5 separate regions of the Homo sapiens genome follow, and all the other regions are linked to region 4. The links come from fine-mapping of genetic effects on gene expression. A gene starts in region 4. Each other region holds a variant in brackets. All regions are shown on one strand. Distances are between the middles of the regions.

Region 1 (5,000 bases), 40 kb before region 4:
TTCCGGTGTGTGGCACCGCCATCCTGCCGCGTGCCCACAGGGGCTCTTCTATTAATATTAGCACAGAGAGGCTGGGCACGGTGGCTCACGCCTGTAATCCCAGCACTTTGGGAGGCCGAGGAGGGCGGATCACGAGGTCAAGAGATTGAGACCGTCTGGCGAACGTGGTGAAACCCCATCTCTACTAAAAATACAAAAATTAGTTGGGTGTGGTGACACGCATCTGTGGTCCCAGCTACTCGGGAGGCTGAGGCAGGAGAATCCCTTGAACCCGGGAGGTGGAGGTTGCAGTGAGCCAAGATCACGCCACTGCACTCCAGCCTGGGCAACAGAGCGAGACTCCATCTCAAAAAAAAAAAAAAAAAAACGGACAGATGGGGAGGGGGTAGAAAGAGAGCGTGCACACACAAGGGCAGCCATAAGGGTGAGCTGTCTGGTGTCTCTTCTGACAAGGACACACTCATCCTATGGGATCAGGGCATCCCCTCCACTACCTCATTTTGCTTTAACCACTTTCTCAGAGGCCCCATCTCCAAATACAGCCACACTGGGGGTTAGGGCTTCAACACAGATTTCTGGGGGACGGAGACATTCAGTTGAGAACATCCTGTCCCTGGCCTCCCCCAAATTCATATCCTTCTTGCATGGCAAATACAGTCATCCCATCCCAACAGCCCCAGAAGTCTTATTCCAGCATCAGCGCTAAGGTGTGAAGTCCCAAGTCTCAACAAAACATCACCTGAATCAGGACTGGGTGGGACTCAGAGTGCGATTCGCCCACCCTGAAGCTGAGCTCCCCTCCAGCCGTAAACCACGGAACCCAAACAAGTTACATGTTCCCAAAATACAACAGTAGGGCAGGCACTGGACAGACGCTCCCTTTCCAAAAGAGAGAAAGAGGCAACAGGGAAAGGGTGGTGGGGCCCAAGCAAGTCCAAAACCCCACAAGGCAAACTCCACGAGCTCTTCAGGCTCCAGAGAGTCCCTCTTGGTCTGGATGCGCCACCCTCCAGGCATGCTGGGGCAGAGGTGTCACCCCCTTGGCTCAGCCTGGCAACCCCACCCCCACAGCACTGGACCATGGGCAACCTGGCCCTGAAACCAAGGAGGCTCCCACACTTCGAAACCAAGGAAGAAACAGGCTCTTGTCCTGGGACTGCAGTGAGAGCTGCAGCCCTGCCAACCTCAGAATCACCTTCGGGGCATTCTTCCCTCATCTTGAAGGGTGGTAAAGGTTCTCGCCCAGGCAGCTCTGGTTTCTGTGCTGTGGAATCCCAGCAGTCTGATGCCTTCCTTCATTCTGTCCCCACCATGTCCCCTCTGGTTCAAGCTGGCGGGGTCTCTGGGTATAATCCCATCTCCAGTCCTGGATCCTGCTGCGGTGGGTGCTTAAAGCTGTGGCTCCCACCCACACTCGCCTCCCTGTCAACTGGCTGTTCAGACAAACCCTGCATGTGCTCTTCGGAACCAGCTTTCTCTTTTTTTTGTCACAGACACAGGCTGGGAATTTCCCAAATCTTACAAGTTCTCGTCCCCTTTCCCTTAACAACTCTTTCGGAGTATCTCCGTCCTTTCACACTTTATTGTAAGCGAGGAGAGCAGCCAGGCTGCACCTTTAACATTTCATTCACAGGATCTCAGCTCAGCCAAGTCCTCAGCCATTTTGTAATGAGGATCACTTTCTTCCGGTTCCCCGTGACCTGTCCCTCGCCTCCTCTAAGCCTCAGCAGAAAGGCCTTCAACATCCACTTTTCCACAACATTCTGTCTATGATACCTGCATTCTCTGAGATGCTAGAAGCTTTCTCTCCAGCTCTCCCCTTTCCTCTCTGAGCCTTCACCCGAGTCCCCATTGATGTCCGTATTTCTACCAACAAGCTCTTCGCCGCTATGGAGGCTTTCTCCAGCAGGTCCCTGAAAACGTCTGCAGCATGTACCCATTCCCGGTCCCGAAGCCAGGTCCACACCGTCGGCATTTCTCCAGCAGCCCCCGCTCTGCGCGCGGTACTGAAATCTGTCTCAGTTGGCTCTGGCTGCCGCAACAAAAGGCCGCAGACCGGGCG[A/G]CGCATAAAAAACAGACATTTATTTTCTCACAGTGCTGGAGGCTGGAAGTCCAAGATCAAGCCAATTCAGGTTCTGGTGCGGGCTCATCCTTAAAGACGGCCGCCCTCTGGCTCTGCTCTTACGTGACACGGAGAGTGACAGAGAGATTGAGAACACAGGTGAGCTCTCCACTGTCTCCTCTTATGAGGACCTCACGCAACCTCACTGAACCTTAACTACTACCTTAGAGGCCCAATCTCCAAATTCAACCATACCGGGGGTGAGGCCTTCAACACTGAACTTGGGGGGACACAAACATTCCGTCCATGACAGATATCATAAATGGATTCTCAGATTCGCAGACATCAGCATCCTACACATTCACAGGTAAGGAAAGGTGCTTACACTAGTGTCAGCAACAGGCTGGGGTGTCGGCAGCTGCACCGCGTATCTCCAGATATGAGCAGTCTGATCTCCAGAAGCTGAAGAGAGAAATCGGGGAAAATTACCCAAGGCACAGACCATGGTAAAATGCGCTCTTCACCGCCACTATGGCTAAGCAGCAGCAGTCAGACCTTTCCAGCTTAGTGACCACTTAGTGAGAGGAATGTACTTTTTACTTAAATAACTCTTTTCTGAGACTGCATAATGCTATTGAAAATAGAGTACATGTCCAAAATTGAGGAAATAATGATTACTTATAAAACTATTTCACCTTTCATTTTAGCATAGAAAGTCCTGGAAGTTCAGAGAAAATGTACAAATAGTAGATTTTCCTCTCCATCTATCTAACCTAAGAAACCCTATCATATCAGAACTTACAGCTGCAATCAACTCTGAGACGTTCGGGAAAGCGACACTCATCTCCATCCATTCAACACACACGCGGCCTTTCAATGGGCCAGGCACCTATCAGCACTGCTCATGTGTGCGGCTCCCGTCCCACTCTGTTTTCAGCAGCCAGTTTGCGAGGAAACGCTTTGACTGAGGATTGGAAAGACAAAAGGACAGCACTGCGGGGCACAGAACAGGCCTCGGACACCAGCATGGCCACCTCTCACCCACACACGGGCAGGCTGGCTTCCACCTTCTCTTCACTGCCACCCAGCTTCTCTAAAGGAGCTGCTCTGAGCTGATGCAGCACATTTGATGCAAATGAATGTACTGCCCGGACTTGCAACTCCTCCTCAAATCAACATCATGCCCAATCCCAGTCTAACTCTCCTCTCTCCATGCCCGTTACCTCACGTTTCCCCTCTAACTCTCCTCTCTCCATGCCTGTTACCTCACGTTTCCCAGTCTAACTCTCCTCTCTATCCCCATTACCTCACATTCCCAGTCTAACTCTCTCCTCTCTATGCCCATTACCTCCAGTTTCCAAGTCTAACTCTCCCCTCTCCATGCCCATTACCTCACGTTTCCAAGTCTAACTCTCCTCTCTCCATGCTCGTCACCTCACATTTCCCAGTCTAACTCTCCCCTCTCCATGTTCATTACCTCATCTTTCCCAGTCTAACCCTCCTCTCTCCATGCCCATTACCTCACGTTTCCAAGTCTAACCCTCCTCTCTCCATGCCCATTACCTCACGTTTCCCAGTCTAACTCTCCTCTCTATACCCATTACCTCATGTTTCCCAGTCTAACCCTCCTCGCTATCCCCATCACCTCACGTTTCTCAGTCTAACTCTCCCTTCTCTATGCCCATTACCTCCTGTTTCCAAGTCTAACTCTCCTCTCTCCATGTTCATTACCTCATGTTTCCCAGTGTAACTCTCCTCTCTATCCCCATTATCTCACATTTCCTAATCTAACTCTCCCCTCTCTATGTCCATTACCTCACGTTTCCAAGTCTAACTCTCCTCTCTATCCCCATTACCTCATGTTTCCTAGTCTAACTCTCCCCTCTCTATGTCCATTACCTCATGTTTCCAAGTCTTCATCAGTTCCTGGATGTGTCTGGTTCCACCCTCTTTTCCAGCCCTTTGGTTTGAATCTGGACACGTCTAATTGCCACCAGTCTCCTTGCTCCCTTTTCAATCATCCCACAAACCGCCAACTTCGTAAGGTGTAAACTCCTTGTCTGCTTTAGTCTTCATCCACGTATGAAGGTGAAAGTCAGCTATGTGGTCTGGGCCTGCTCAAAATGACTCTCAGGCTAACCCTCCCACCACATTTCTCTCTCACATAGAAACTCCAACCAAACCGCATGACTCGCTGCATCCCACACACTGGAAGTACCTGTTGCTGGGGCTCCTTCTTAAACAACTCCACCTGCATGAAGGGGCCAGTCATCTCAACCTCAGTGTTCTATTCCTGCGTCAGCACAATTTGGCCCATAGGCGAAACCCAGACAGCCGCCCACTTTTGTGAATAAGTGGACACAGCCATGTCCACTCATCAGTGCACTGTCCGCTGCTTTTAGGCTGCAAGAGCAGAACTCAGTACTGGCGACAGAGCCTGAATGTCCCGCAAAGATGAAAATATTCACTGCTTACTCCTTTACAGAAAAATCATAAGGACCTCTGGTCTACTGAAAGCCTACACACATCCTTCGAGATCATCACCAATGTCCCTGGGCTATCATGGGGATCTGTGGGGGTCTGACAATCTCACAGGAAAAGTCCTCAGTACTGTAAGGCTACCCTCGAAAAAGCGACCAAGGAAGGCACGTTTTTAAAACTACTCTGAAATTATAGCAAATCCAAGCTACCACGGGTTAGATAAATTACCCAGAAAGAAGTAAAAATGCTGACATTGGCAACTTGCTGTGTCTCTGTGCTACTTTTCTCTTTTCCTCCATATCAGATGCCTACAATCTAAGGGAACAGAATGGTAACCACAGGGCCTCAAGGAGCTCCGTCTACAGGAACTGCGGGGGGAGCAGCAAACATACTGATGCTGTACGGAAAGGCTTCGAGAAGACCGTGAAGCCATCTTCATCTCACAATAAATCCAACT
Region 2 (5,000 bases), 24 kb after region 4:
TGATTCTTGTCCCAGGAAGCCCAAGACGTGACACGGTGACCCACTTTAATGTGTTTATACATAAGTGATTTCAGGAGGCAAAAAAACAGATTACACTTTTTTTTTTTTTTTTGAGACGGAGTCTCGCTCCTTCGCCCAGGCTGGAGTCCAGTGGTGCGATCTCGGCTCACTGCAAGCTCCGCCTCCCGGGTTCACGCCATTCTCCTGCCTCAGCCTCTGAGTAGCTGGGACTACAGGCGCCCGCCACCACGCCCGGCTAATTTTTTTGTATTTTTAGTAGAGACGGGGTTTCACCGTGTTAGTCTGGATGGTCTGGATCTCCTGACCTCGTGATCCGCCCGCCTCGGCCTCCCAAAGTGCTGGGATTCAGATTACACTTTTAAAAGTAATGGCAAACATAATTCTCAATTTAGGGTCTCAGTAATTTACAAATGTATGTCTAGAGTTAATGGGCATAGAAATTTACCCAGAAGAATTAGGAGGGGTATGTATGCAAGGGGTAGAAATAGGATCCCAATTCAGAGAAAAGGGAATTGTTCTCAGGGAATCAGGACAGGGAAAGTTTAGGGAGAAGAGAAGAACCAAAGTATTGAACTTGGGGCAAGACCAGAGTAAGAACCAACAGTAAAACCAAATTGCTGCACAAAAATAGTAAACAATGAGACAGGGATAGTTTTTTGGCCTGAAAATACTAGCCCATACATGTATGCCAAAAGCCTACTGGCAGTGTACCCAAAGAGACTACTTACAGCACCATGGCACAACACAGGCATGCAGTGGGTAAGGTTTCCTGGCATCTCGTCACAACCACTGGGCCTTGACCTTGGCCATCCCTGAGCTCTGAGCTCAGGTCTTAGCAGGTTGGTCCTACTGATTGTAACAGGGCCCTTGTCACTGGAGTTTGGCCAGTTATGTTAACATCTAGCTATTTATGAACCTTGTCATTAGTAATTATTACAAGATACAACATAATAGGAACAACTCTATTCATAAAAAATATATACACATAAACAACAAAAACATGTATATGTATTGTTATTCAGCCTCCTAGATGAATAACAGCTTAAACCTTATTAAGTCTTTCATTTTTTGCCTTTCATTTACTTAATTTTCTATTACAGTTTCAGAGCTTGGGTTATACCTGAGCCTAAACATGGTTAAATACCACCCAGTTGTACAGGAGACAGGATCAAACGATAGAGAAAATAGAGAAGTGAGTGTTGGAGGAAGAGCAGTAGTCTTCTCATGGCTGAAAATTAAAGCTAAGTCTGAGACTGACCCCTATTCACGTGGATATGGGGCCCATTTTAATAATGAACTTACGACCGGGTGCGGCGGCTCACGCCTGTAATCCCAGCACTTTGGGAGGCCGAGGCGGGCAGATCACAAGGTCAGGAGATCGAGACCATCCTGGCTAACACGGTGAAACCCCGTCTCTACTAAAAAATACAAAAATTTAGCCAGGCGGAGTGTCAGGCGCCTGTAGTCCCAGCTACTCGGGAGGCTGAGGCAGGAGAATGGCGTGAACCCGGGAGGCGGAGCTTGCAGTGAGCCGAGATCGCCCCACTGCACTCCAGCCTGGGCGACAGAGCGAGACTCCATCTCAAAAAAAAAAAGAAAAATGAACTTACATTTCTTTCACATATATTCAACTCTTCACATGTTCTTTTTCTCCTTTTGTTGGATTTATCGAGCTGTGCTTTTCAAGGATTTGTCGATTTAATGCACATTATCAAAGTTAGAGTTGTAACCTTTCCCTACATACAATCTTAGTATGTTTTTAGTATCTTCCTTTTTCTTACACATTTTCCAAAATCTTTCCTATCTCCCAATAGCATATGCAGAAGAAAATGAGATATCTCAAATATAGCAAAAACTGCATCAGATTGCTTTGGAATAAAAAAATTGAAAAGCTTCTAGTGATCCCAGCACTTTGGGAGGCCAAGATTGGCAGATCACTTGAGGCTAGGAGTTTGAGAGCAGCCTGGGTGACATGGTGAAACCCCATCTCTACAAAAATTAGCCGGGCATGGTGGTGTGTGCCTGTAATCGCAGCTACTCAGCAGGAGGAAGGAGGGACAGGCAGGGGGAGGGGGCTGAGGGACAAGAATTGCTTGAACCCGGGAGGCAGAGGTTGCGGTGAGCCAAGATCGCACCACTGCACTTCACCCTGGGCAACAGAGTGAGACTGTCTCAAAAAAAAAAAAAAAAAAAAAAAGGAGCAACAAAGTTGGAAAAAGCCATTAACTAGAATGATCAAGAAGAACAGAGAGAATGCACAAATGATGAAAATCCGAAATAATGCAGGTACATCTTTGTATTACCCAGCTAAGGCATAGTAATTAAAATCTTCCCATGAAGAAAAGACAAGGCCCAGTGGCCTCACTAGTGAGTTCTACCAAACATTTAAAGAAGAAGTATTGGCCGAGCATGGTGGCTCACGCCTGTAATCCCAACACTTCAGGAGGCTGAAGCGGGCGGATCACCTGAGGTCAGGAGTTCAAGACCAGCCTGACCAACACGGTGAAACCCCGTCTCTACTAAAAATACAAAATTAGCCGGGTGTGGTGGCACACGCCTGTAATTCCAGCTACCCAGGAGGCTGAGGCAGGAGAATCACTTGAAACTGGGAGGCGGAGGTTGCAGTGAGCCGAGATCGCGCCATTGCACTCCAGCCTGGACAACAAGAGCGAAACTCTGTCTCAAAAATAATAAAAAATAAGAAATATTACCAGTCCTTCATAAGCACTTCCAAGAAATAGAGGAAAAAGGAACACTTTCTTTTGGTTATTACAAGAAACTATACCAATGTATTTTAGTTATTTTATATTTTTTATATATTGGTGTTATTTTATTAGTTTTATATATATTATTTTATAACTAATCTATATGTTATATTAATTATTTTATATATTATGGTTATATTGCAGTTATATGTAGGTATATATAGCTATATATAGTTATATTAGTTATCATATTAGTTATTTTATATATTGTTATTTTATATTTTATATATAATATTTTTAGTTATCCTACCTCCCAAAAG[C/T]ATATGCAGAAGAAAACGGGATATCTCAAATATAGCAAAAAGATTTCTATTGAGAAATGTTCAGTAATAAGTAAAATGACACATATGTGATTGATATTTTTTTTTTTTGAGTCATTGTCTTGCTCTGTTGCCCAGGCTGGAGTGTAATGGCACGATCTCAGCTCACTGCAACCTCCACCTCCTCAGTTCAAGCAATTCTCTGCCTCAGCCTCCCGAGTAGCTGGGATTACAGGTGCCTGCCACCATGCCTGGCTAATTTTTGTATTTTTAGTAGAGATGTGGTTTCACCATGTTGGCCAGGCTGGTCTTGAACTCCTGACCTTGTGATCCACCCACCTCGGCCACCCAAAGTGCTGGGATTACAGGTGTGAGCCACTGCGCCCAGTGTGATTGATATCTTAAGGCTGATGACAGCAGCCCTCTCAAATGAATCTGCAATTTGCTACTGAATCCATACAATTCACCTCCTCCAGTATTTGGCCAAGCCACACAGTAACTATTTATAATAGATATTACAAGAATAACTATTATCAATCACGAATCCAGATACAAAAATCTTAAAATATTAACAGAAACCAGCAACATATAAAAAGAATATTCTCCATGCCCAAGTGGGATTTATTTCAAGAAAGCAAGGCTAGTTTAACATCTGAAAATCAATTAATATGATACACCATATTGCTAGAATAAAGGGGAAAAGACCACACAAGACTCATTTCAGTAGAAATGCAGAAAAAACATTTGACAAAACTCAACATCAATTCATGATAAAATCTCAAGAAAGTAAGACGAGAAGGGAACTTCTTCAACCTGATAAAGGTCACCTTCTGAAAACCTACAGCCAACCCTATCTTTGCATTGAACAATGCTGTAGAACTACAGCTCAACACACTTTCTTAGGAAAGCAGAATCTGAGAGCCCATTCAGAAAAAGAACTACCTCAACACTCTTTCTTAGGAGAGCAGAATCTGAGAGCCCATTCAGAAAAAGAACTACCTCAACACACTTTCTTAGGAAAGCAGAATCTGAGAGCCCATTCAGGAAAAGTCTGAGAGCCCATTCAGAAAAAGTGTTCTTTGGAGAGCAGGATTGAATTAGTTTGATCTTTTCAATTGAATGAGGCAGTAAGCCACTAGGTACAGTGATACTAGCTTTGGTAATGTGCAGCTGTAGAGGGTTTGTACAAGGTTATTAAATTACATTCAAAATTTTGGTCTAGAATATCTTTTAGTTTTGGTGACCTAGGTCCATTATGTGCCTTAGGAATATACAAATATATGTAATCCAGGCTGGAGTACAGTGGCTCAATCCCAGCTCACTGCAGCCTTGACCTCTGAGGCTCAGGCGATTCTCCCATCTCAGCCTCCAGAGTAGCTGGGACTACAGGTGCACACCACCATGCCTGGCTAAGTTTTTGTATTTTTTGTAGAGATGGCTCTTGCCATTGTTGTCCAGGCTGGATGCCTGGGCCCAAGTAATCCACCCGCCTCAGCCTCCCAAAGTGCTAGGATTACAGGCGTGAGCCGCTGCGCCGGACACTGCCTTAAGAGTATACGAATGTATTTTTGATGCAAATGGAACTTTTCATTCAGGTGTAAATAAACTTGAGCTAAGTAAATGGTTAATAATAGGAGTTGATTTACATGCTTGCATTTATCTATTTTTTTCATTTACATACAACTCCTTGTGGGAAAGTGCACTAAAGATGCTGAGTACAAAAACTTTGTATTTATTTGCAGGATATATCTGAATATTTTTAATTAATTAAATAACCGAAGTTCCAAATTATAAACCTACAATCATGGACAGACATGGGAGCTTAAAGATTGCGTGGCTTGGCCAAATATTGGAGGAGGTCCAGGCGCAGTGGCTCACGCCTGTAATCCTAACATTTTGGGAGGCCAAGGCAGGCGGATTGCCTGAGCTCAGGAGTTTGAGACCAGCCTGGGCAAAG
Region 3 (5,000 bases), 46 kb before region 4:
AGGAACAGAAAACCAAACAGGTGCATAACCCATTTTCTGACCCTACCAGTTAGAAGGTCAGGCAAATTAACAGGTTGAATGTGAGAACCACTTAAATCTTGATTCTTTGCTTAGAATACCTTCTAATGATACAACGCTATGGGTCCTCAGTCAAATACAATCTTTAACGCTCATGCAGGAAATGCACTTAGAGATAGATTCGCAGAAGCAACTTCAGCAGGCAGCATCCCAAGATGGCCCCAAGCCACCCCCACCCCGTACATGCCTAACACCCTTCCCTTCAGTTAGGGCAGAGCCTGTAAATAGGATGAGATTATCTTTCTGGTAATTATGATACATTATAAGGCAAAAAGGATTTTGCAGATGTAATTAAGGTCCCTAAATGAGTTGACTTTGACTTCATCAAAGGGAATATTGTCCTGGGTGGTCTGGCCTAGCCCTTAAAAAGGGTCCCAGAAGTTGGAGAGTTCAGAGCAGCAGGGGAGCTCCAGCTGCAGAGGAAAGCGGCTGCTGTGTGGGAAAGGCAAGCCCTGTGCAGGGGCCCCAGGGCCAGACACAGCCTCTGCACGCCCAGAGGAGCCCCGGCTGGCAGCTGGCAAGAAGACAGGGCCTCAAACTCCAGACGCAAGAAGGAGCTCCTCCAATGACCAGCAGGCTTGGAAGAGGACCGCAGCCTTGGGGAGGTCCTGACCAGGCAGCACCCTCACTTAGGTCTTTGAGGGCCCAGGGAGAAGAGCAGCTACCACGGGCCCAGAATTACTGACCTGGGAAACCATGAGGCCGTCAATTCCTGTCGTTTTAAGACACTAAGATTGTGGAAATTTGTTACAGAGCAATGGAAAACTAATACAACTACCATATGTCCAATATCTAGATACTACATGCTACAATTTAAAACCCCTGAAGACAAAATAAATTTAGCTACCAATAGTTCTATTATTAATAGAAAGAATCTCCAAAAATTACCACAGAAGAGCCAAGAACACAGAGACTCATTCTGGTCAAGAAGTAAGTGGCAAGGTCAGACATAACCCATGGACATAAACTAACATGCACAGCCAGGAGGCGGCGGACTCAGAGAACCCAGGCACCTGTCAGAGAGTGAACGAGCTCGGACGTCTCCACGTCGTACAGGTTTGCCGTCCGGTCCCAGGAGGCAGTCACAGCCTGCTTCCCCCCAACCAGCCAGTCGGAGGCGATGACCACGCCCTGGTGGCTCTTGAGGGATGTCAGTGGGACGCGGATGGTGGGGCAGTCGCTGGACACATCCCCATCGAGGTCGGGCTCGTCCTTGTCAGAGCACTCTACTTCATCTTCCCCAGATATCTGCTGCCAAAGGGAAGGCCAGAAAAGAAAGACATTTCCTGGAAATCTTGAGTTTCTTCTGACATAGCTACAAAATAGATGGTTCTCATTAATCTCTTGAGGACATATCCATCATGATGGTCACCACTAGGAGCCTGGTGCTGGCCACAGTGATGAGTATGTCCTCCTCTGACCCATAACTGCTGCCCGTGAACACCCATCAACTCTACGACCATCTCGTACAGAAAAAAAAGTGGAATCCACAACATTGTCAACCGAACTACCATTTATTTCCACGCATCAACAGAATGGCAAATAAAATGATTTTCAACATTTAAGCTTTCATCAGTTACTAGTAGAAATGCAATATAAAACTAACCAAATACAAATGAAAGTCAGTAATTTATCACATTACAAAAAGGCATTTTCATTCTCAAGAGCCTATTTAAAATATACTTGGAATTCTATTGCTATAGTCATAAGAGTCTATTTTCCTTTGTAACATCAAGCCCCCTGTCAAAGGCCAAGGCTAAAACAAACACATTACAGCCAGCTCTGTAAGAAAATCTGTATATTCATCCAACAAATATTTATCAGGGGGTGACAGAGTGCCAGTCCCCACCCCCAGCCCAGGTGCTGCTTACACAATGCAGAAGAGGACAGACGGCTTCTGACATGCACACATGCAAAACTACGCTCAATCTAGCAGGTAGGAACTCTGGAGTGAGGACCCCTGGTAAAGCCCCTGCCCTCAGAGAACTTCTGTTCTAGCAAAAGAGAGAGACCACACACACACACACCCGTTAGTATGGAGAGGTATGTCATATATACACAAGTACTAGTACTGGAACTGATAATTTGGAAATTTGTCCCAGCCCAAATCTCATGCTGAACTGGAATCCCCTGTGTTGGAGGCCGGGCCTGGTGGGGGTGTCTGGCTCATGGGGGAGGATTCCTCATAGCCTGATGCTGACCTCACAATAGTGGGTGAGCTCTCAAGAGATCTGGCTGCTTGGATGTGGGGCACCCCCCGCCCCCGCCTTACTCCTGTTTCCATCACATGACGCCTTCTCCCGCTTCGCCTTCTGCTGTGAGTGAAAGCTCCAAGCTCCCTGAAGCCTCCCCAGAAGCCAAGCAGATGCTGGTGCCACGCTTCCTGTACAGCCTGCAGAATCAGCCAATTAAACCTCTTTTCTTTATAAATTACCCTGTCTCAAGTATTTTT[TA/A]TAGCAATGCAAGAATGGCCTAACACAGGCACGTCATGAGCACATATACATTACTAGGGAATGCACGTCACAGGGACGCACAGCAGCACGGGAACGCACGTCACAGGGACGCACAGCGGCACGGGAACGCACGTCACAGGGACGCACAGCGGCACGGGATCGCACGTCGCAGGGACGCACAGCAGCACGGCAACACGTCACATGGACACACAGCCGCACGAGAACACGTCACAGGGACGCACAACAGCAAGGGTTCCCACGTCACAGGGACGCACAGCAGCACGGGAACACACGTCACAGGGACGCACGGCAGCACGGAAACATGTCACATGGACGCACAGCAGCAAGGGAACGCACGTCACAGGGACGCACAGCAGCAAGGGAAAGCACGTCACAGGGACCCAGGGCAGCACGGGAACACATATCACATGGATGCAGAGCAGCACGGGAACACAAATCAACATGGAGACACAGAGTAAGGTGGTAGTAACTTCTATGAAGTAAAATAAAACAGGACAAGGGGCAGCTGGATGGGGGCGCTATTTCACACAGAATTACTGAGGAGGGACTCTCTGATGAGGTCGCACGTGAGTCGGATGTGAGGAAAGGAAAGGTTAAGTAAGGCTCGCCCGGGCTGAGGAACAACATTCCCGCCATGTGCGGAACAGCTACGGGAGGCAAAGTCGGGAACAGCTCCTGTAATCCCGGGAGACTGGAAAGGACACCAGGTTTTATTCCGTGTGATGCAAAATCACCAGACGGCTGTCGGCAGGATGTGATGCCCGGTGTGTGCTGTGTGAACAAACTGCGGAGGGAACAGTGGAAGGGGCTGCTATGGGCAGAACTGTGGACCCAAATTCCTGTGTCGAAGTCCTCACCCCAGGACCTCAGAATGGGGCTGTTTGGAGAAAGGGGCTTTAAAGAGATAATTAAGGTAAAATGAGACCAGGAGAGTGGATCCTATTCCAATAGGACTGACATCCTTGTAAGAAGAGATGAGGACACAGACACTCCCAGAGGGATGAAGGATCCAGGAGAAGACGCCATCTATGAGCCATGGAAAGACGCCTCAGGAGGAACCAGCCCTGCTCACACCCTCATCTCGGGCTTCCAGCCTCCAGGACTGTGGGAACACGGATCTGTTGTTTAGAACACGGATCTGTTGTTCAGAAGTCACCCTGCCTGTGGCACTTTGTTATGGCAGCCCCAGAAAACAACGGGGGAGACGGACAGGAGATGAGAGAAGTGCAGGGAGGGCGGCCTGGAGCAGGGTGGGAAGAAAGAACTGAAGCGCCCTCTGCTGCAGGAGTGGCTGACAGGGTGATTTCCACAGGCAGTAAGAGAACAATACAGGCGTTCAGACGGTGGAAAGGTGTTTGGTCTAAAGCACTGGGTGACAGGGACGTTTCCTGAGACGGGTGGCACAAGGAAAGGAACACCCAGAGACAGCAAGTTCAGGGTGGCACGTGCAGCTCAGTCGGGACGGGGGGCCCGAGGCTCACAAGGCTGGCAGAGGCCCCCAGACAGGCTGCAGCAGGGGGGTACTCGGTACGTCACCTTGAAGGCAGGGGGTGATGGGTGACAGCACTGCACGTGGCTGGGAAAACGGCTCTGGAGGGAGCACAGCAAAGAGCCAGGAGCAGCCACGGGGTGAACCCCTCAAAGAAGAAAAAGAAGGCTGAGGAAGTTAAACGAGTAACTCAGTGTAACCTAACTCACATGTGACAGTCATTCTGTTGGTCTAAGTCTGTTTCCACTACGCCACCCAAACGCTTCCTTATCAACACTGTGGATGTCAAGCAAAACTCACAGATGCAAATTTTAAAACACAAGACGTTTGCCCAAAAGCTATAATGATTCAAGATGAACACAGATTTTAACAGATTAGAGTTTGTGTTAAAATTGAAAATTAGAACTGCTAAGCAAATCAGAGTCAACACTGGCCGGCAAAAGCTTCAGAAAACAAAACTGCTTTCCACCTAAGGAGCCTCATTTCATCCAGTAGTGCTGGAAGGAGCCTCCCACGCCATTTCTGCAGGGACCTGGCCGTCCACAGGCTGCACTGCCTCCTCCTTATTAGGGAGGGCCCAACACAACTGTGTGTGCAGTGCTCCCAGGACAGCTCAAGTCACAGCACATCACAGAGGTTCATCTTTAACTCAGAACCCCCAACACCAGCCCCAAATCTTGAGGTGGCAGCTATCAATATGAGAAGTGCACTCACCCAACACAAGCAAAGTAGTAAAGAAGAAAATAAAATTAAGTGAACATTCTAAGTAAACTATTAGGTGTTTTTAATGTAAGTACTGGACATGAATCTTCCCTCTCACAAAATTAGTGTTTTTCTTATTTTATTTGGAAAACAATCCATACATTAACTCCTTTGAATTTCCTGAGCATCAATGCTCACCCTCCTCACCTCTCCACCACGCCCACCATCAGTGCACATTTTGAATTTCCTGAGCATCA
Region 4 (5,000 bases):
TAATCAGATAAATAGCCATCAAGATTTTCAAAAGATCTCAGTAGTTAAAAGAACAACTTTAAACCAAGGATGAAATTCAACAGATGTAAAATCTTTTCCCTGAAAAGAATAAGACAGGATAAATATGAAAACTCTATCTTAGTTTCACCTTGGGGAAAGGGACTTAGGGATTTTAGTTCAGGGCAAATGCCCAAAGTGAACAGCCTAACATAGCTACCCAAAAAGAGGAGGAGGGAAACACACTCACTCAAGATCTCCTGTATACAGCACTTTGCAAAAATGGCTGGCATATATTACATAACGTAACCTTCCCAGTAAGAAAATGAGGCTGATATGAACACCATGTTAGAGGACAGGGAGTCGGGACTTAGGAAGGCCTTGCCCAAGGTCACACTGCTGTTGAGACGTGGCCAGTGCACACGAGTCCCTACTCTGTCTCCTGTGAGCAGTATTAATAGAAAGGCAGCGTCTAAACCCAGGGGATAACAGATCACTCCATTTGTTCCACATTGGTGAGTTCATATTTACATACCGTGTTTAACTCCTGGGACATATCAAAAGCTATTTTGAAAGACTCGAATTTGATCAGGAAAGTAACCAGAACAGTGTGTGTGTCTGCTGGGGTTGGGGGAAGTTCAGAAGACGAAGAAAGTTCCTGGAGATATAACTATCTTGAGCTTTCTCATTCAGAGGTAAATAATTCCTGCAATACTTTTATGACCGTAACTCACAGGCCAACATACTGAATTTAAGAGAAAAACACTTGAACTTCAATAAATGAAACTTCCAAGCAATTAACACTTTTCTATAATGGTATCCGCTTCAAGGGACGAATGTTTTAGCGTTTAAGTTAAATGACAAAATCTCTAAAAACCTGGCAGACCTTAAGCTATTTTCACTCACAACCTGGAAAAATGTATTTATTCAACTTGGTTTAGTAAATGAGTACATTATTATTGTTGCTCTTGTGTTATTCCGGTGAACAGCTGTCTTAAAATGTTTCCCTCCAGCGGTGGCTGCTTTCAGGGGGAAGGGAAGGAAAAGGAAGTCTTCAAAAGGGGAACAATATCATGGCGCTGTGTTAATCACTTCAGCATCCGTCACTCCACACTCACCACCCTTCTTGAAGCCGACCATCCCCACTCTTTGGAGAGAAGAAAGGCCATTCTCCTCTCTGAAGGGCCTCCCAAGTGCTTCCCTGGAGACGCACTTCCCCGGGATGCCCAGGCCGAAGCAAAGGGGGCGGGGAGAGACCCCGGGCCGAACCCTTCTGCCCCCAACCCCTCCAGCGCCCCGACTCTTCCTGGACTCCGACATCTTCTGCACCGCCCCGGGCCCCCATCCCTCCCGCACCCTGGTCCCTCTGGCACCGCCACGGACTACTCCTGCGCCCCGACTTCTCTTGCACCCTGAACCCTTCTGCACCACGGCCCTTCCTGCACCGCCACGGGTCCTCCAGGGACCCGACCCCTCCTGCACCACCACGGACCCTCTGCATTCCAAGCCCACCTGCACCCCATCCGCCACTATGCCCCGACTGCCCCTGCACCCCCTTGAGCCCTGCAGTGTCCCGACTCCTCTTCGGGGCATCCGGGGAACGACTCGGCGCCTGACAGGTAGGAAGATGGCGGCACTCACCTGTCACAGCAGCTGCGCCCGCCACCCCCGGAGCCAGCCCAGGTCGCGCACCGCCAGTGAGTCCCTACGACGCGGCCCCCCGTACTGACCCGAAGACGCGCAGGACACCGCTGTCTCCGCACTGACGCGACCCCACAACCCCAACCTGGCGCTAATGCACTTCCGGTGTCGCCGGAAGTCCCGCCCCAGTCCCGCGCCGCTGGGTTCTCCGGAAGCCGCCCCACACCTCCGCCCCACACCCGGCGGCGCCGGAAGTCACGCCCCGGCTTCCGCCCCGCAGCCCCGAGGGGTCTGGGCGCGCTGAAGACCCCTTCGGCTGCTGGGCCAACGCCCCCACCCTTGGTCACGTACTCCTGCCGCCGAGCGGTTCGCGGGAGGTGGCCTCGGGGGTCGTAGCTACTCACCGGCGGGGCGCTCCGAGTCCATCTGCCCCGTAGCCCGGCAGCCGGGGCGGGAGGGCTGCGAGCCCGGGGCGCGGTCCGCCTGAGGCCTGAGACCCGGGGCCGCCTGCGCTCAGGGCCGCGGTGCCGGCCGCGCGGGAGCCTGGCGGGGACGGCGCGGTCAGTGTTCGGCTCCTCCGCAGTGACTCACCAGCGTCCTGAAGCTTTTGATCACCATTGGCTGGGAAGGAAAAACAGAATCAGCTGTTCCCTGCGAAAGGTGGGACTTGGGCCGCTTTTTTCTTAGAATCTAGGTTGGAAACGTCGCATGATGGTCTTTACGTAAACAGCCGTCTCAACGCTCTACAGAAAGCGCTAACCGCGCATTTGAAGCCCACCTAGAGTAAATCAAGAGCGTGAAAGCATTTTTTTTTTCTGTGTAGGTTAACATTCCTGCTCCTTCCTTTAAAAAGGAAGCTCAAGGCCAGGCGCGGTGGCTCACGCCTGTAATCCCAACACTTTGGGAGGCCGAGGCCGACGTATCACGAGATTAGGAGGTCGAGACCAGCCTGGCCAACATGGTGAAACCCTGTCTTTACTAAAAATACAAAAACTAGCCGGGCGTGGCGGCGCGCGCCTGTAACCCCTGCTACTCGGAAGGCTGAGGCAGGAGAATCGCTTGAACCCGGGAGGCGGAGGTTGCAGTGAGCCGAGATCGCGCCTCTGCACTCCAGCCTGGGACAGAGCGAGCCTCCGTCTCCAAAAAAAAATAAGGAAGCTCAAGATGAAGAGTCAGAAGTGGTAACTTGTTTGTTGCACAAGAAACAAATTTAGCATTCTATTTAGGGGATCCAGATTACCAAAAAAAAAAAAGAAGTGAAGTTATTTCTGCATTAAGTATATTAATAAAACTTTATCACTAAAAACAATTCTGTAAGAGGAACGCCAAGGAAAAAAATATTTGAGTTTTTAGAGAAGTCATTTTTTAAACTTTTAGAGGTTGTGACATTTAAGTAACATAATTTTATTTAGTACCTAGTATGCAAAGACATTGTACTGGGCATGGCAGCAAATAGAAAGCTTTGTAAATCGCAGTGTCCCATCTAATTAACCCGCATTCTAACAGGTGGTTTTATTTTTCTGGACCGCACCACAGTCAGGTAACACCAAGAATATCGCTAATGTAATTTTTTAAGTTGATATATTTAGGATTCCATAAAAGTCACTGAAAATAACTGAGAGCATGACATGTCACAAAACAAGGGAAAGAAATCATTTTGAGGATCAGTCGCTTTACATCTTTTGTAACTAATTTAATCCCCAAAGGAATCCAATAAAGTAAAAGTTATTCTAAATTGAATTTTAAGCATGAGAATGTGGAAATTACTCGTCAAAAGTCAAAAATAATCGTGCAGCAGGGCAAAGACTAAAGGCTGGCATCAGAATCCATATTCTTTTCACTGTTGATGTGCTAGGGCTGCAGGAACAAAATACTGCAAACTAGGCAGCTTAAACAAATTTATTGTCAGAGGTCTGACTGGAAGTCCCAAATCAAGGTATTGGCAGGGTTGATTCCTTCTGAGAGCTGTGATGGGAGCCTGTTAATGCATCTCAGCGTCTAGGCATTCCTTGGCTTGTGGCAGCATGCCCCCGCCAGTCTTCACATGACGTTTTCCATGTCCGTGTCTGTCTGCACACTTAGCGTTCTTTTTATGAGGACATCAGTCATATTGGAGTACAGTAGACGCTACTTTAATATGACCTCATGTTAACTAATCATATCCACAACAACCCTGTTTCCAAATAAGGTCACATTATAAAATACTGGAAGTGAGGTCTTTAACACATGAATTTGAAAGGGGGACACAATTTAACCCATAACACACTGTATCCTGAAATAACTATCCAATGTAATTTTTTTAAAAGACACAAAACTAGCCGAAATTATAAAAGGTTATGATTGCAATCCTGGTATCCAGTTACATTCTCCCTCCTGCAGAAGCTGTGGAGAATCCTGTCTCAGAAAACCAATTTCTATTTTGTCACATGTCCATCTATGCAAAATACATGTACTTTGTCCCTGACATAGGGCAACAATGCTGAATTTACTAAGACTCATTTTTGCGCATGGTTTGATAGGGAATTAAGATTTACTAGGTATTCTGTCATTGTCCTCATTACTGATTATTTTAACTGTGTCTCAAACACTTGGATAGTACACTATAGTGTTATAAGCTGTTTGACATGTCGCTTCCTAAATTCTCAAGTTATATATATGTGTGTATATATGTCATGTAACAGGCACAACTGTTTTCATGTGTATCACTTTATTGCACTTCACAGGTATCATATGTTTCTTACAAAGTGGAGGTTTGTGGCAGCCCTGCATGGAGCAAGTCTGTCAGCACCATCTTTCTAACAGTATGTGCTCACTTCATGTCTCTCTCACATTTTGGTAATTCTTGGAATGTTTCCGTTATTAAATCAGTTATAGTGATCTGTGATTAGTGATCTTTGATATTACTGTCATAATTGCTTGGGGGGCACCATGAACCACCCCTATATAAGACAGCAAACTGAGTCGATAAATGTTTTATGTGTTCTGACCACTGCACTGACCAGCTGCCTCCCTATCTCTCTCCTTCTGCTCAGACCTCCCTATCCTTGAGACACAGCAATACTGAAATTAGGGGCCAGGCATGGTGGTGGCTCATGCCTGTAGTCCCAGCTACTTGGGAGACTGAAGCAGGAGGATTGCTTGAGCCTAGGAGTTCGAGGCTGCAGTGAGCTGTGATCACGCCACTGCACTTCAGCATGGGCAGCAAAGCAAGACCCTGACTCAAAAAAAAAAAAAAATCAGGCAATTAATAGCCCTAAAATGGCTACTGTTTCATAAAAGAATGAGTTGCACATCTCTTACTTTAAATCAAAACTAGAAATGATTAATGATTAAGCATGGTGAGGAAGGCATGTTGAAACAGC
Region 5 (5,000 bases), 69 kb before region 4:
CAGTGCACGTGATGTGCTCCAGGACGCTCAGCACGGGGCCCCACGGGCCTCCACATCACAGGGACCCTCACACTCCGTGAGCCTCCACGTCACAGAGACCCTTGCGCAGGGACCCTCACGCCCAATGAGCCTGCTCTTCACAGGAACCCTGACCCCGGACCTCCTGACTCTCCACCAAGCTCGCTTTCCCAAAACTCATGCTGGGAAGTGACACCTACTCCAGCACTACAGGGAAATATTTTCAATCAGTCCCTTTCACTCCACTACTTAAAGGCTCAAATAAGTGTTTTGTTTTCTCTTTTTCAAGTCAGTCAGCTGAAGAAGTAAGGACAATATAAGTCAGTGATTTCCAGCAGGGTTCTGTGACACTGAAAACCACATTTATTTATCTGAAGAGGTGTTACAAGTTCTAAATAAAGTTAAATCACATTCATTAATCTTAAAAATAAATCTATTTCACATACCACTTTAGGAGGGAATAAACCCAGGCACAACAGAATCCTACAACATCAACAAAGTTGAATGTTCACAGATAACTGAAAATAAAACTGTCTACACAGAATTAAGGCCAAGAAGAACCATTCAGAATTCCGTTTTTCTGAGGGAAAATACTCTCAAAGTAATAAAGTCATAGTTCACAGTCATAAACAAATAGTTTTCATGAATTTGTGTTTCAAAATGCAAACTTTACATGCTGCACAGAAATTTTAAAATCCGCATGGGCACATTGAAAAGAGAACATTCTACTGTGTCTAAGATGCAGCTGTGAGGACACATGAGTGATGCTCAGCTGTTAACAAAACATGAAAAGCTTCCCCAGGACAAGCAATTTATGGCTGTGTTAAGGGTTGTGAAGCATATTTTAGTCACTCTAATTTCATGAAATTTTTCTACTCCACTATTTGGATGTGTATCGAGGAGTAAAAACTCAATAATTAACTTCAAACAGTGCACTCTCATGCCAGGAAGGGGACTGAAGAGACACCCGGTCTCAGGGAAGCTCATTTCCAGAAAGTCTGTGCTACCGGAAGAAAAGGTGTTGCTGCGCTGAGAGAACCCCCACTTTCGCACGTGCCTCCCTGACCACCCGGCCTGCCTGCAGGTTCTGAGGCTCACACCCCGTGCAGAGCAGCTGCGGCCCACGAGCCATGAGCTGGTGTCCACAGAAGGAGCCACAGAGGCACTGAGGGGGCCACCCAAGCTGCCGGCAGGCGTGTGGCCCTGTGCAGCCACAGGAGGCCTCGGGGAACAAATCCATTTACTCACACAGGTATCCAGACAGTACTCCAACAAAATCAAAAGAAGACAGGAAAGAGGGATCCTCTGGGGGGGCCTCCATTACGCACAAGGCTGGGCAGACGCTGCCTCGACCACGGGGAGTTTCTTTTTTTTTTTTCTGAGACACAGTCTCGCTCTGTCGCCCAGGCTGGAGTGCAGTGGCGCGATCTCAGCTCACTGCAAGCTCCGCCTCCTGGGTTCACGCCATTCTCCTGCCTCAGCCTCCCGAGTAGCTGGGACTACAGACGCCCGCCACCACGCCTGGCTGATTTTTTTGTATTTTTATTAGAGACAGGGTTTCACCGTGTTAGTCAGGATGGTCTCGATCTCCTGACCTCGTGATCTGCCCGCCTCAGCCTCCCAAAGTGCTACGATTACAGGCGTCAGCCACTGCGACCAGCCACTGACCCCGGGGAGTTTCTGTGCATCGCAGCTGACCCTGTGACCTCCCAGGGGAGAGCCAACAGCAAACGCCACCCACATTATAGTGAGGCCCGGCTGCAGAGCACAGCAGAGCCGCCAGGGAATCTGAACACGGGCCCCCAGGCCCCCTGGGCCTCTGCATCTGTGCGGGTGCCATGGAGTCTCGATTCTCTTTGCGCCTTCCAGGCAACCAGGACGGGTGGGCTGAACAGCACATAGCGAGAAACTCCCTCCGCCGTCTTCTGAAGTTAGCAAGGAGCAACCCTTCACTAACAAGAAACTAACATTTAAATATATTTCTTCCTGTCGCAACAGCCTGCCATAGAAACGTGTTCTTCTGGCTGGAGGTGGAAGAGGTCCCACCTTAAAGACCCCCAGCCTACAACCAACCCAGCTTCTGCCTGGCCACAATGCCCACTCAACACTTCCAATCTGCACAGACACAACTGCAGACATCTAAGACGGCTTCCCCACAGAGCCACCACCACTAACACGTGCACCAAAGAGCTCGTTCCGCATGCCTGTGAAACAGAGGAGCTGCATGTTTTCTTTATTTGTAAACTGAAAAGCCGATCATGGTATTAAGAACACTGGGCTGGGCACGGTGGCTCACGCCTGTAATCCTAGCACTTTGGGAGGCGGAGGAGGGCAGATCACCTGAGGTCAGGAGTTCAAGACCAGCCTGACTAACTAACCAGCCTGACTAACAAAATTAGCCAGGCGTGGTGGCG[C/T]ATGCCTGTAATCTCAGCTACTCGGGAGATTGAGGCTGAGGCTGAGGCAGAAGAATTGCTTGAACCTGGGAGACAGAGGTTGCCGTGAGATCATGCCACTGCACTCCAGCCTGGGCAACAAGAGCAAAACTCTGTCTCAAAAAAAAAAAACACTGAAGTAGGTGTGGAATAACTTGAGTGTACAACTCTACTTCTTCAATTTTAAATTTTATGAACTCTAAATACAGCTCAAGCATTTCCAAGGAAAACTTAGCATGCAAAGACTTAGTAAGAAAATGAGAATGTAAAATATCTCTACCCGTCCTCCTCCACTGTGCCCTGCATATGTTCACCGACCGTGCTGTTACCTGTCGGCTGCTCCGGGGAAGCCGCGCCAGGCGCACTCCTGACATATCAAACAGTCTCACTTGTCGGTTGTCATGGGGGAGGGCTATGATTTTTTGGCCGACACATACATTGATCCTGCAAAGAAGAGGTAAAAGTGGGTTGTGCATGAAACAGTGACACTGTAAGTTTTTGAGTTGACAGATAATGAAGCAGGAGGTTCCATATTATTCACATTTCAAGGCCGACTACATGAACACACTGCGTGTACCACCTGCTTACGGTATTCAAAAGAGACCAAGTTACTCACACGTAGCTACAAGATCACACAGACCCCATGCACATACACACAATACACACACACACACACACACACACACACACACACACTGCTCAATGGTAGAACCAGACCCACCCAGACACAAGACCAATCCTCACAAGAAGTCAAGAGAAGCCCTGCATGTCTGCCACAAACGGGTCATTCTCATTCTCACAAATCTCACTGATCCAACCTGGTTTTAGGCTAAGTTAGTTTAAGTTTTCATGGAATACTGAAACTGCATTAGAGGACAAAGGAGCCTAAACCATTGTTCCCGGGGTTCTATCAATTAAACCTCCATGAATAAAACATGAAATCACAATCAATCCTTTCACATCAAACTAAGCCACTTACTTAACCAACAGTTTGACTTTACCTGTTAATGGCAGAGTCCGTGCGAATAGTTGCAATGGGGGATCTCATATTTTTCAAGTCCCAGACTTTCACCGTGCGGTCATCGCTGCCTGAAACCACGTTGTCTCCCACGGTGAACACGGCAGAAGTCACAGTGCTATGAACAAAGGGCACAGAGTCAGATGCAACAGCAGGTGCAGGACGTGACACCACACCCCACACACAACCCTGACCAAGTGGGTGGGAAGGAGGTCGGAGAAGCGCAAACTCACAGCTCTCTCCTCTGCAAACTGCTCCCGCCTCCCAAAGCCTCTCCACCAGTGCAAGAAAAGGACAACTGATTTCTTCCCAGTGGATCAGAAACACACAGTCCATTCTACTCTATTCCACATCTACAGGCAACGGAACGAAGAGAGGTTACAGAAAGTAGGGTTGGACAGAACATGCCCAAATGTCTACACATCTGGGTCTATGGCAGAGAATTTAAAAAATCCATTCCAACAACAACTGTCAATCAATGTAATCATAACATATCTTGGTCTATAGCAGAGAATTTAAAAGAAATCCATTCCAACAACAACTCTCAATCAATGTAATCATAACACAGGAGTTAAGAGAAAAACACTCTGACAACAATTCAAACACGGACAAAGGACTTGGATCAACATTTTCCCAAAGAAGATATACAAACAGCCAAGAAGCCCCACACACCAGAATTCACAGTAGCATTACTGACAACAGCCAAAGAGGTGCAAACAACCCACATGTCCATCAGCAGATGGATTTAATGCGGCGTGTACACACAATGGAATATTATTCAGTCGTAAAAAAAGAAACTCTAACACGTGCTATGACATGAATGAACTTTCAAGAATCCCCCTCATCTAAGATCCCTGGACTAGGCAAATTCAGAGAAACAGGAAGTAGAACAGAGGTTCTCGGGGTCTGGGGGATGGGCATGAATAGTTTCACAAGTGCAGAGTTTCCATTTGAGATAATGAAAAAGCATAGGAAATAGTGCTGGTGGTTGCACAACAATGTGAATTGATTTAATGCCACTGAAGTACACACATAAAAACAGTTAAAATAGTAAGTTTCATATTATGTATATTTAACCACAATCTTTATCTTAAAAAGTTTGAGGAGAAAAATTCAACATCACAACCACTCTTGGAACCTGCTTCTATAAATCCAAAATAATAATTAATAGTTTTCTTTTTAATTCAAATGTGTTGAAATATGTGGCCCTCAGGGAGAGGCTCGAGGAACCGAAGAGGCCCTGAAATGGCTAAGATGGGAGACCCACGCCCTAAAGATGAAAAGTACCATAAAAACAAGAAGAGAGGGGGAAGAAAGGTTTCATCAGTTTATGTTAAACTCTTTCATAAACTTTTCTTCTGAAATGTAAAAAAAAGTGTTTGACATGGTGCTAAGTATATTAAATAGTCTTACCCGTGGTAAAATCGGATTAAACATGTAAACAAAGGATGTTATCACTTGAATTGCACTGAGAATCACTGAAGAAACCCAGGCAAAATCTGCAGAGGAAATCATGTCCTCACCAGCTGAGG

Direction of the effects. Alleles are on the strand shown, and positions count from the first base shown. SD is a standard deviation of normalised expression in the study named.
For the expression in unexposed skin of the gene that starts at base 2,222 in region 4, allele G in region 1 goes with a higher level than allele A (small effect, 0.20 SD a copy in GTEx).
As copies of T replace C in region 2, the expression in esophagus muscle of the gene that starts at base 2,222 in region 4 goes down (small effect, 0.18 SD a copy in GTEx).
As copies of A replace TA in region 3, the expression in lymphoblastoid cells of the gene that starts at base 2,222 in region 4 goes up (moderate effect, 0.45 SD a copy in GTEx).
For the expression in tibial artery of the gene that starts at base 2,222 in region 4, T is the low allele of the variant in region 5 and C is the other (small effect, 0.15 SD a copy in GTEx).

Evidence for each region. PIP is the estimated chance that this variant, and not a neighbour inherited with it, causes the effect. A credible set is the group of variants that fine-mapping cannot tell apart.
Region 1: its variant is the best candidate, but not a certain one, in a credible set for the expression of WDR37 in unexposed skin (GTEx, PIP 0.53).
Region 2: its variant is the best candidate, but not a certain one, in a credible set for the expression of WDR37 in esophagus muscle (GTEx, PIP 0.67).
Region 3: its variant is the best candidate, but not a certain one, in a credible set for the expression of WDR37 in lymphoblastoid cells (GTEx, PIP 0.75).
Region 5: its variant is the best candidate, but not a certain one, in a credible set for the expression of WDR37 in tibial artery (GTEx, PIP 0.54).

Annotation. Positions count from the first base shown.
Region 1 is chr10:1,093,694-1,098,693 of GRCh38, reverse strand. It overlaps WDR37 (WD repeat domain 37), which reads right to left. Exons shown (of 14, transcript NM_014023.4): 9 at 2,448-2,524. Among named protein-coding and RNA genes, the nearest start is that of WDR37, 40 kb to the right of the region's middle. RefSeq lists an enhancer at 1,857-3,056. The variant A/G (reference allele first, on the strand shown) is at 2,063.
Region 2 is chr10:1,029,587-1,034,586 of GRCh38, reverse strand. All of the region lies in intron 1 of IDI2-AS1 (IDI2 antisense RNA 1), which reads right to left. Among named protein-coding and RNA genes, the nearest start is that of IDI2, 6.2 kb to the right of the region's middle. The variant C/T (reference allele first, on the strand shown) is at 3,047.
Region 3 is chr10:1,099,928-1,104,927 of GRCh38, reverse strand. It overlaps WDR37 (WD repeat domain 37), which reads right to left. Exons shown (of 14, transcript NM_014023.4): 10 at 1,092-1,326. Among named protein-coding and RNA genes, the nearest start is that of WDR37, 46 kb to the right of the region's middle. RefSeq lists an enhancer at 2,197-2,729. The variant TA/A (reference allele first, on the strand shown) is at 2,531.
Region 4 is chr10:1,053,607-1,058,606 of GRCh38, reverse strand. WDR37 (WD repeat domain 37) reads right to left here and starts at 2,222. Exons shown (of 14, transcript NM_014023.4): 1 at 1,639-2,222. It also overlaps a transcript of IDI1 not described here. RefSeq lists enhancers at 1,505-1,564, 1,665-1,724, 2,525-2,574 and silencers at 1,825-2,254, 2,685-2,744.
Region 5 is chr10:1,122,804-1,127,803 of GRCh38, reverse strand. It overlaps WDR37 (WD repeat domain 37), which reads right to left. Exons shown (of 14, transcript NM_014023.4): 12 at 3,452-3,586; 13 at 2,780-2,894. Among named protein-coding and RNA genes, the nearest start is that of LINC00200, 34 kb to the left of the region's middle. The variant C/T (reference allele first, on the strand shown) is at 2,433.